Regions from separate parts of the Homo sapiens genome. Here region 1 is linked to region 2. Evidence: fine-mapped expression QTL. A gene starts in region 2. The other region holds a variant in brackets. All regions are shown on one strand. Distances are from middle to middle.

Region 1 (5,392 bases), 83 kb before region 2:
TCTAACATGTGTCTAATGAGAGTTTCAGTGAGATAAAGAGTACAGGGAAAGAAATACTTGGAAAGACATTGGTGGTCGTCAGATTCTATACCTGGAATGGCTTCTGATTACAGCAATATGGATTAGCATAACTTGGATTAATGAGTACCACTGAAGAAAGCTAACACAGCAGGACAAAACACATTAAAAAATTATCTCAAAGGCAGAGTACTAGTAAAATAGTAAATTAGGTCAAGGGAGAAGTTCTGAAATTCTGAGAATAAACCCTGCATTTAGAAATTCTTTCCCTGGGGGTATTTGGCACAGACTAAGCAGAACTTTTGACATGCTCTCAGGACTTGGGAACAATGGCTGCAGTCTAGATACTGGCAGGGACAGAGCACAAACCACTTCTCTTATGAAGGACAGCATGCTGGAGACAGCGGACGCTAAATATAAGCCAGATATTTCCCAGCTATGGGAAAATAAGTTTCTGACTGTCCCAGAAATTCTCACTCTGATTTTAGCTTAAGGTGGTTCTAGATTGCCAGTACCATAAAGTGACAATATAAGAGAAATAAAATCCTTTCTGGAAAAAGGAAAGCTTTATCCTAGTATGCAAACTGTTACTACAAACACTTTTTCAAATATAATTTCCAATCCAGTTTTAAAGATAAAGATTGAAGGAGATAAGGCAATTGGCATAGAAACCAGCAGAAATGATACAGATAAAGAAGAGACCTTCTCCATATTGTTCAGGCTGGTCGTAAACTCCTGGGCTCAAGTGATCCTCCTGCCTTGGCATCCTAAAGTGTTGGGATTACAGGTATGAGCGACCATGCACGGGGTACCTGTATTGTTTCATTTTTAAAAAATGATGTATCTGAAGTAAATGTAACAGATCAGCTTGTGAATACATGGATATTTTATGATACTACTCTCTATACATTTCTATACTTTAGCATTTTATAATTTTTTAAAGAAGAATTTAATGTTTCAGAAAAAAAGTATAAATATATTCAAAAGATGGAAAAAGTCTTTTCCGTCTTATGTTTATCTGTATCTAAGGTGATATTACATGCAGAAATTTTTACTTTGGATAATTTGTTAGTATTTCAGTTTCATTGATTATCTTTTTGAAACAGCTAAAAGATAATTATATCATCAAAATAACGGAAAACATAGAAACAGCTTCTCTATAGCACTGTTTTACTTCCATAAATATGGTTGAATAATTCTTGATTCAAATTTCTTTTTATAAAATTACATTAAATGTACTATGGCATCTCTATAAGTTTTATACAATGAAAAAATATTGCATGCTTTGTATTCCTTCATTACAAAAATTGAACTGCAATTTAAATATGAATTTCAATTTAGAGCATTAGTAATTAACTGATTTTATTCTGTTTTGTAATTCTTTCATTCATTAATCACTGTGAGAGCTGAAGAACATTACAACCCTGTAGGAAATAAAAAGACAAGGGTGTCACTTAAGGTTAGTCATAGAGCATGGCTTGCATTTTAATCTAGCATTGGTTTTATGGAGATTTAAAACTTTTCAATCAAAAATACTTCTAAATGTCACCAGTTTTAGGGGAAGCATTTAGTCATTTCATGAATTAATTTTCTGGGCTTTACTGCTATGCTTTATTTACCACAATCTAAAATCAATACTATGGACACAGGGTATGGTTTTGTGTCAGACATGCACAGTCCTGAGGGCCCTGGTTTAAAAAGGATGATGTAGGTATCATTTTCTTTCTTCTAGCATTTCCCTAACAGATATGCAACACTTAACGGTCAAATGCTTATGGCATGTCTTGCTTCAAGTTGGAGAAATCCTATTTTTTCCCATCCTGTGCAATGTACTCATATGTAGTCACAAGACTGTTGGTGACTAAGACACCCAAAACTAGCAGCTATATTTGCTTCTTAGCACTGTAACCGTCCCAGCCCTGGTATTTGATTTAAGCCATTATACAGATTACAATTTGGGAAAGAAGCAATAAAATGATATAAATTCTAATAAATGTTAAAATTTCAATTTTTAAATATAATTAAAATTATGGAAATGAAATCTTTCATGAATGAGATCATCCACAATCTCTACATCTTTTATCCATAAATTCAAGTGAGAGGACAAGAACAGGAATAAGCACATTTGGAGGGCTTATTTTGTCGTGTGTGGACAATTCAATGGTCAGCTTCTGTGTTCACTTTCCTCTGCCTGTGGTTAAATTGTGTTACACAGCCTGAGGTGTTGGAGAAGGGGGTGTTATACCTTCAGGTCATTTACACTTACAGGTATCTGTGGAAATGTTTGTCCTCCCGTCTGGGCTTAGACATTCACAGATTGTAGCTGCAATGTCCCTTAATTCCATAAGTGTCCTTAAGACTTGGGAGAACCTTCATATATTTTTCCCTCACCCTAGAGTTTTGAGACCAATTCTGGTGCTTATTCTCTTTCTCTGGACAATGAACATATCTGTGATACCATTTGCTGTCCTCATCTGCTAGATACCCCATACAGACAGTCCCTATATCCAGAAAATAGACCAAAAACTCCCATATATTAATATAATCTATATAATTGTATATAATATAAAATAGACTAAACCTCCATAAGTTATTAATATAATATATAATTATATATAAATATTAATATAATATATAATTATACATATAATCATTAATATAATTTATAGGAGTTTTTGGTCTATTTTCTGGAAATAGGGACTGTCTATATGGGGCAATCTAGCAGGAAAAAATGTAAATCAGGAAAAAATTGAATAAATGTCTTGAAAATGTACTTCAAAAGAGAATATTCAAATGAAGCATGTGAAGATATGTTCAATATTTAGTTATCAGAAAAATGCAAGTTAAAATCACAATGAGACACCATTACATATTTAGTGCCATTTCTTTAAAAAATGAAAAAGTTATTACATATGTAAAGCATCTAGCCTTTTTTTT[G/A]TTGTTGTTGCTGTTAAACATTAGCCCTTTTTTTTTTTTTACTTTTATCTTGAGCTTCAGGGCACATGTGCAGATTTGTTATATGGGTAAATTGCATGTTGTGGGGATGTGGTGTACAGATTATTTTGTAACCCCGGCAATAAACATAGTACCCAACAGGTAGTAATAAGCATATTACCCAATAGGTATTAATAAGCATATTACCCAATAGGTAGTTTTTGGATCCTCACCTTCCTCCCAATTTCCCCCTCTTGTGGGCCCTGGTGTCTATATTCTCTTCTTTTTGTCCACATGTACTAGATAATTAGCTTCCACTTATAAGTGAGAACATGCAGTATTTGGTTTTCTGTTCCTGTGTTAGTTCACTTAGGATAATGGCCTCCAATTCTCTCCATGTTGCTGCAAAGGATGTGATCTCATTATTTTTTATGGCTGTGTAGTATTCAATGGTGCATATGTTTCTTTATGCAGTCTAGCACTGATGGGCAGTTAGGTAGATTCCATGTCTTCACTATTGTGAACAGTGCTGCAATGAACATATGTGTGCAAGTGTCTTTATGGTAGAATGACTTATATTCCACTGGATATATATCCAGTAATGAGATTGCTACATTGAATGGTAATTGTATCTTAAGTTCTTTCAGAAATCTCCAAACTGCTTTCCACAATGGCTGAACTAATTTATATTCCCACCAGTAGTGTTATGTTTTCTTTTCTCTGCAGCCTCACCAGCATCTGTTATTTTTTTACTTTTTAATAATAGCCATTCCGACTGCTGTGAGATGGTATCTCATGGATTTTATTTGCATTTATTTCTCTAATGATTAGTGATGTTGACCTTTTTTTCCTATGATTGTTAGCCACCTAAATGTCTTTTTTTGAACAGTGTCTGTTCATGTCCTTTACCCACTTTGTAAGGGGATTGGTTGTTTTTTGCTTATAAATTTGTTTAAGTTGCTTAAAGGTGCTGAACATTAGACCTCTGTAGGATACATAGTTTGTAAGTATTTTCTCCCATTACGTAGGTTGTCTGTTTACTTGGTCGATATTTTGCTGAACAGAAGCTCTTTAGTTTAATTAGGACCCATTTGTCAATTTTTCGTTGTAATTGCTTTTGACATCTTCATCATAAAATCTTTGACCAGTCATATGTCCAAAATGGTATTTCCTAGGTTATCTTCAGGGTTTTTATAGTTTTAGATTTTACATTTCAGTCTTTAATCCACCTTGTGTTGATTTTTGTATACTGTGTAAGGAAGGGGCCAAGTTTCAATCTTCTGCAAATGACTAGCCAGTTATCCCAGCACTATTTATTGAACAGGGAGTTCTTTCCCCATTGCTTGTTTTTGTAAACTTTGTCGAAGATCAGATGGTTGAAGGTATGTGGCATTATTTCTGGGCTCTCTATTCTGCTCCACTGGTCTATGTGTCTGTTTCTGTACTAGTACCATACTGTTTTGGTTACTGTAGTCTTGTAGTGTAGTCTGAAGCCAGGTGATGCCTATAGCTTTGTTCTTTTTGCTTAGGATTGCATTGGTTATTTGAGCTTTTATCTTATTTTTGTTTCATATAAACTTTAGAATAGTTTTTTTTCAAATTATAAAGAGAATGTCATTGTAGTTTGATAGGAATAGCATTGACTCTGTAAACTGCTTTGGGCAGTATGGCCATTTTAATGATATTGAATCTTCCTCTCCACGAGCATGGAATGTTTTTCCATTTGTTTGCATCATCTCTGGTTTCTCTGAACAGTGTTGTTTTTAATTCTTATTGTAGAAATCTTTCACTTCCTTGATTATCTGTATTTCTAGGTATTTTATTATTTTTGTGGCAATTATGAATGGGATCACATTCCTGATTTGGCTCTCAGCTTGGATGTTGTTGGTGTATAGGAATGCTATGGATTTTTGTTCATTGATTTTGTATCCTGTAACTTTGCTGAAGTTGTTTATCAGATCAAGGAACTTTTGAGCAGAGAATATGGTGTTTTCTACATATAGAATCATACGGTCTACAAACATAGATAGTTTGACTTTCTGTCTTCCTATTTGACTGCCTTTTATTTCTTTCTCTTGCCTGATCACTCTAGCTAGGACTTCCAGTACTATGTTGATCAAGAATGATGAGAGAGGGCATTCCTGTATTATTCCAGTTTTCAAGGTTAATGCTTTTGCTCATTCAGTATGATGTTGGCTGTGGGTTCCTCATAGATGGCTCTTACTATTTTAAAGTGTGTTCCTTCAATGCCTAGTGCGTTGAGGGTTTTTAATATGAAGACGTGTTTAACTTTATCAAAAGATTTTTCTGCATCCATTGAAATAATCATGTGGTTTTGTTTTTAGTTCCCCTTATGTGATGAATCACATTTATTGGTTTTAATATGTTGAAGCAACCTAGCCTCCCTGAGATAAAGCCTACTTGATCATGATGAATTAGC
Region 2 (5,326 bases):
AGCCATCTCTTGCTTTGCTTTCCAGCCGCACTTCCACTACTTCCCCTCATATAACCTGAAGTCTAGTTTTACCAAGCTTTTAGCAGTGTCTAGAAAGACATAATTTTTCTCCACTTGATAATCCCTACAAACACATAGCAACTCAGTTCAATTTTATTTTTCTCTCTGTGAGTTCTCCCTGAATTCCCTCAAAGTCAGAGTTAGACACTCTATTTTGCTCACATGGCACTCTGCACCTCACTCTATAAGAGCCTTTATCACATTTTGGGGGGCAACTCATTATTGACAAGAGTTGCCAGTTATGTGCCAGAACTGTGTTGAAAGTTTACTTATATCCTGTCAGAAAAGAAATGTTAGGTAATATATCCAAGTCAATACAGCTAAGAAATTGAGGGCCTGTAATCTGAAACCAGTTACTAATTATTAGTCTGAAAGCCTGAGGTCTTTCAGGTAGAACACACTACCTTTCTGAATGCTAGGATTCTTGTAGTTTACTTTTCAGCTCCCAGACCCCTCGTCACTCCTTAAACTCATTAACACAGCAGGTTTTAATAAAGACAGCCCAGTCTCTGAAATCAGACAACTTGAGTCCCATCCTTAGTTATGGTTTCATCACTTACCAAGAATATAATCTTGAGAAAGAATCTAAATCTTTAGTTGGGTTACCTAACAAATGCAAGGATACCTAAAATTTTCTGTAGATCAGGTAATATATGTATGGCTTCAGCACAATACCTTGCACATTAGTGAGCATTCATAAACATTAAGAGTCTTCTAAGAATATCAGGGATTTTGTTTTGTTCAACTTTATATCTCAAACACTTGGAGAATAAATACACATCATAGGTGCTTAATATATAACTATTTGACATATATGTACATCTATATACATGTATATACGTATATAATATATGTATATATGATATTTCTATGTATCATACAGAGAAAATATATTTGATACATACATTTATAAATATATGTGTATATAATACAGATAAAGAGAGTTTAGGTTTAGAAAGTAAAATAGAGGTTTTAACTACTTGGGAAAATAGAAATTAAAAACAACTGGATTACTATTTTGGAAAAATATAGTTGTGTCATCTGTGGTTATATTAGTCCAGGTGTTATCATGACAGTTAAGTGGGGAAAAAAAACTTGTCCTGCATCTATATCAATGATGCTATTACATCATATGAAAACTGAAATCTTTCAATTTTGAGAAGAATTAAAGTTAATAATTGCCTCTGGATCAGGAAGAGCTTCACTAGTTACCCAAGCAAGTGATGAGTTTAACAGTTTGGTGGATTTTGAAATTTTAATTTAACTTGAATTTTATGTGTCATACTCTATTATCCTTTTTCAAGAGAAAACAGAATGCTATTATTCACAGCCTTGTTTTTTAACACAGAAAAATAAAAAAAGGAAAAATGCTTCAAATTTCACTTGACTTGCAAGACTAAAACTTCACAAACTAAAATGACAAATGTATGATTTGTAAAATACAGTTACAATTAGGTTTTTTTTTTCATAACAATCTGTGGTGAAATGTAACGGGAAAGCAGACACTTATTTTAAAGATGCAATTTTAAAAATAAAATTCAAAACTTAGGAAATAGAAAAGCACTCAAGTTTTAGCAGGGATTTTAAAATGTCATCTACAAACTACAAATACAGGTAATCAGTGACACCAAATAAAGTATTTTGAAAGAGTTAAGGTAATGTATATTTCAAAAAGCCGTTACCAGGCTTTCTGTAAGTCCCTTGCAAGAATTCCACTTTAAGCATTGTAGTCTCAAATATTATATCAGGCAAACCTAGGCATTTGCTATATTCTTTTTAAAAATTTAATGGCAGACATCACCCTAGGTTCCCTAACGTTTAAGGAGAACCTCTCCTTCTAATGATTCTCTCACACAGCTTATTGGAACAGGAGATTGTATTTACTAACTAGATCAGGAAATCTCAAACCATACAGAGGAAATCAGAAACCGGTCACTCACGGCTACCACAGTGACTGCTTCTGAGTGTGGTTCAAGCTCAGTCCAGGACAGGCAGATGAAAGGACAATCTTAAAGGTGACTCTGGAGAGCAAGTGAGACTGTAACCCCAAAACTTTCTAGGATAATTCATTTTCACTTCTACCCAGTCAAAACAACTATTGACATCATCACTGAAGTGCTTAAGTCTACCTGGAGGTGGCGTGGAGCAGAGTGAGCATTCCAGAGTCCCAGACAAGAGGAGATGTGCACGAAACACTATCTTCCTGTCAGACACCTGTGCCCACTGCCCCAAGCACTGCCCCTCTGGTCCTTCATCAGCCTTTGCGCTGTGTCCCTCCTGCTCCTGCAATGGGCCACAGCACAGAAGGAAAGAGTCCTCCGGAATGGGTGACTGTATAGAAAGCAATCGAATCTTTAATCACTTTTCCTACTTTACACTTCACGCAGTTCTTATTCCTATCCCTGCTTCATGCCTTTCCAAGAGAATGTTAGAGGCCTCTTTCAATTTTCATTTCTCAGTCTTTTCCCCATCCCGTTCAGTACCCTAAACTTCGTCAGTTATTTAAAATAACCTTTTACCCCCTCCTCCCCTTCCCAGGATGTTTCAACTTCTCTGGCTCTCTTCCCCATCCTTACCTCCTCCAATTCTTTCATCCTGGTCCTGGCCTCTTAAACCCGCCAGGGGCTGCCCTTTGCCTGTCTTTTCTCCTCCCATCCCTCTCTGAACCCTTTCACCTCATCCATTCCCTTGTCAGGCTCTCCAGATTCCCGGGCTGTTTGCTGGTGAGAAATCTTTGCTGCAGCGAGGACCGGAGTCCCCCGCGCGCAGCCCAGTGGCAGAAGAGGGCTAGGCTGAGAGGGAAGCCAGGACTGTAGGAGAGGGAGGCAGCCCGTCCTCCTCACGAACCTGCAAGGATGCGGCAGGGGCCTGGGGGCATGGGGAGGTACTAACCCCCCGGAGCCCCCGATTGGGGCTTGCAGACCTGGCCCGTGGGCGGATTTTCTGCCTAGCGCAGCCGAGAAGCAGAGGTGCCAGGAAAACCAAGAGAGGGGCGCTGGGGGTGCCCATCCCCAGAGTCGGTCCCTCTGCGAACCGAGGAAGAAAAGAGGAGGGAGTCAGCGAGTGGTCAGAAGGGAAAACCTGACACCAGACTGGCTCCGGAGCGTCCGGGAGACTGGGGCGCTCCGGTGAGCACCCAGGGGGTGAAGCCAGCCGAGCGGTGGGCGAGGGGCGTGCGGAGGGAGTGCGCGCTCGAGGAGGGGACGCCAGGAGGGCAGCGATGCTCCGGGCTGGTGCAGGCTTGCTGGGGGATGTCGGCTGATGCGAGCTGGAGAGCGCGTGTGGCGGCCGCGGCGCCAGTGTTTGTGTGTATGTGAGAAAGCAAGGGGCGAGCGCGAGTGCGAGTGAGGCAAAGATAGAGCGCATGTCTCATCCCTGCGAGCAGCCACTAGACGCTCCACCACCATCTTTTGCATGTGCAACATTTGCAGCCGGACAGAAAACCTCTCCCAGGGCTATGGAGACTGCGGGAAAAATCTGGCGGCTCGCGATGGATTGCTAAGGAGAACTAGTCATAATCTTAAACCACCGAAACCTCTTTCCTTTTTTTTCTTTCTTTTCTTTCTTTTCTTTTTTTTTTTTTTTTTTTGGTTGATTTTAATTTTAGCGCCATCGTCTTCAATGCTTCTCTGAACAGCCTTTAGGAAGAGTGCGAGAGAAAGAGAGAGAGCGCGCGCCAGGGAGAGGAGAAAAGAAGATGAGGATTATTTCCAGACAGATTGTCTTGTTATTTTCTGGATTTTGGGGACTCGCCATGGGAGCCTTTCCGAGCAGCGTGCAAATAGGTAAGGTGTGCTCCGATGGGGTGTGCATGTGGCTGGTTGTAGCAGATATCCGAAAGTGAGTTAAATGAGTTGCTGATAAGCAATTCAGGGAAACCTTCAGCAGTTCCCTTCCCCTCTGTTTCCCTCCTCTTCCTTTCTCTCCTTTGCAAAAAGACTTCCTCTTTAGTGCAGGTTCCGTTGGAATACACCCAGGGCAGCCCACCCATGCGTTCTCAGCCCATAGCCCTATTTCCACCTTTACCTATAGTCGCTTAAGTAGGATTGAAATAAGTTGGGGGAAAGTCTTCGGGGAATTTGGTTGTATTTTATATGATATTTATTTCCATCCCTTTCTCTAAAGCATAAAGTGATGTCGAGTTTGTTTAAAAAAGAAAAAAAAAATCCACTTCTTCCCATTCTGGACGCCGCAGCTTTCTTGCTATTACAGAAAGACACTGTTTGAGGAAAAAGACATTTCCACCCGCACGCCCTGCCGTTTCTTGCTACCAGTTAGCAGATTCCAAAGTTAGATCCCTTTCCTGGAAGCTTCTCCCCTTTTATTTTGTTTTCTTCTTGAAGCTTTTGCCCTTATTTCTCTACCTCGACTCTGTTTCCAGGGACACCCTCCATCCTTGGCTTTTCTTGCTATTCTCCTCTACTGTCTTTTAATGGGACGCAGCTATTGAATTTCTTCCAGCTAAGCCCAGCCTCAACACTGCATCATTTCTCGTGGACTGTGCATAAAACGGAGTTAATTAGGCTGAGTCCACGAGCTGGAGGAAAATAAAGTTCATTTCTTCTTTCTGATTTCCCTCTTCCCTGTGTGGCACTATATCCCTTCATTTCCGTATTTTAATGTAAATCTCTTTTCCGCTCATCTGCATGCATCTTAGAGAGAGCTGCCCTGAGGTGGCTGATGTAGCAGTGTGCTGGGAATCAGGGGGAGGGCAAGGGAGAGAAAGGAACATTCACTAAATGGTCTCAGAGGTCATTGTGAGCAAGACACATTAGGACAAGAAAAAGCTGAGCTGCTCTAAAGACTAAATACTAAGCATGCACCTTAGGGACAAAGGGCAGTCTCCCTAGATGTGGCAGGTATAGCTCTTTAATTGTATGTGCTTGTGAATGGCAGTAGATTTGACTGTGCTTGGGGTGGGTATAATGTTGACAAGAGGAAACAGTGAATGTGCTTTTCCTGCTGTTTTTAATAGGTGGTCTCTTCATCCGAAACACAGATCAGGAATACACTGCTTTTCGATTAGCAATTTTTCTTCATAACACCAGCCCCAATGCGTCGGAAGCTCCTTTTAATTTGGTACCTCATGTGGACAACATTGAGACAGCCAACAGTTTTGCTGTAACAAACGCCTGTAAGTAAAACATAAGCTATGAAAAATTAGAAGAGAACTGAAACCAAGCAATGGAGTCCTCTTCCTCTTTGTTATTTAATTTTTTTAGAAAGAATTTCAAGATTCCCACAGTTGCCTGGTTTCAGGACAAAT

Alleles and levels. Alleles are on the strand shown, and positions count from the first base shown. SD is a standard deviation of normalised expression in the study named.
For the expression in pancreas of the gene that starts at base 2,833 in region 2, A is the high allele of the variant in region 1 and G is the other (large effect, 0.85 SD a copy in GTEx).

What was found. PIP is the estimated chance that this variant, and not a neighbour inherited with it, causes the effect.
Region 1: its variant is the best candidate, but not a certain one, in a credible set for the expression of GRIA4 in pancreas (GTEx, PIP 0.58).

What each region holds. Positions count from the first base shown.
Region 1 is chr11:105,524,215-105,529,606 of GRCh38, forward strand. It overlaps a transcript of LOC105369468 not described here. Among named protein-coding and RNA genes, the nearest start is that of GRIA4, 83 kb to the right of the region's middle. The variant G/A (reference allele first, on the strand shown) is at 2,956.
Region 2 is chr11:105,607,241-105,612,566 of GRCh38, forward strand. It overlaps GRIA4 (glutamate ionotropic receptor AMPA type subunit 4), which reads left to right and starts at 2,833. Exons shown (of 17, transcript NM_000829.4): 1 at 2,833-3,188; 2 at 3,668-3,845; 3 at 5,036-5,194. The coding sequence starts at 3,758. RefSeq lists a silencer at 3,809-4,009.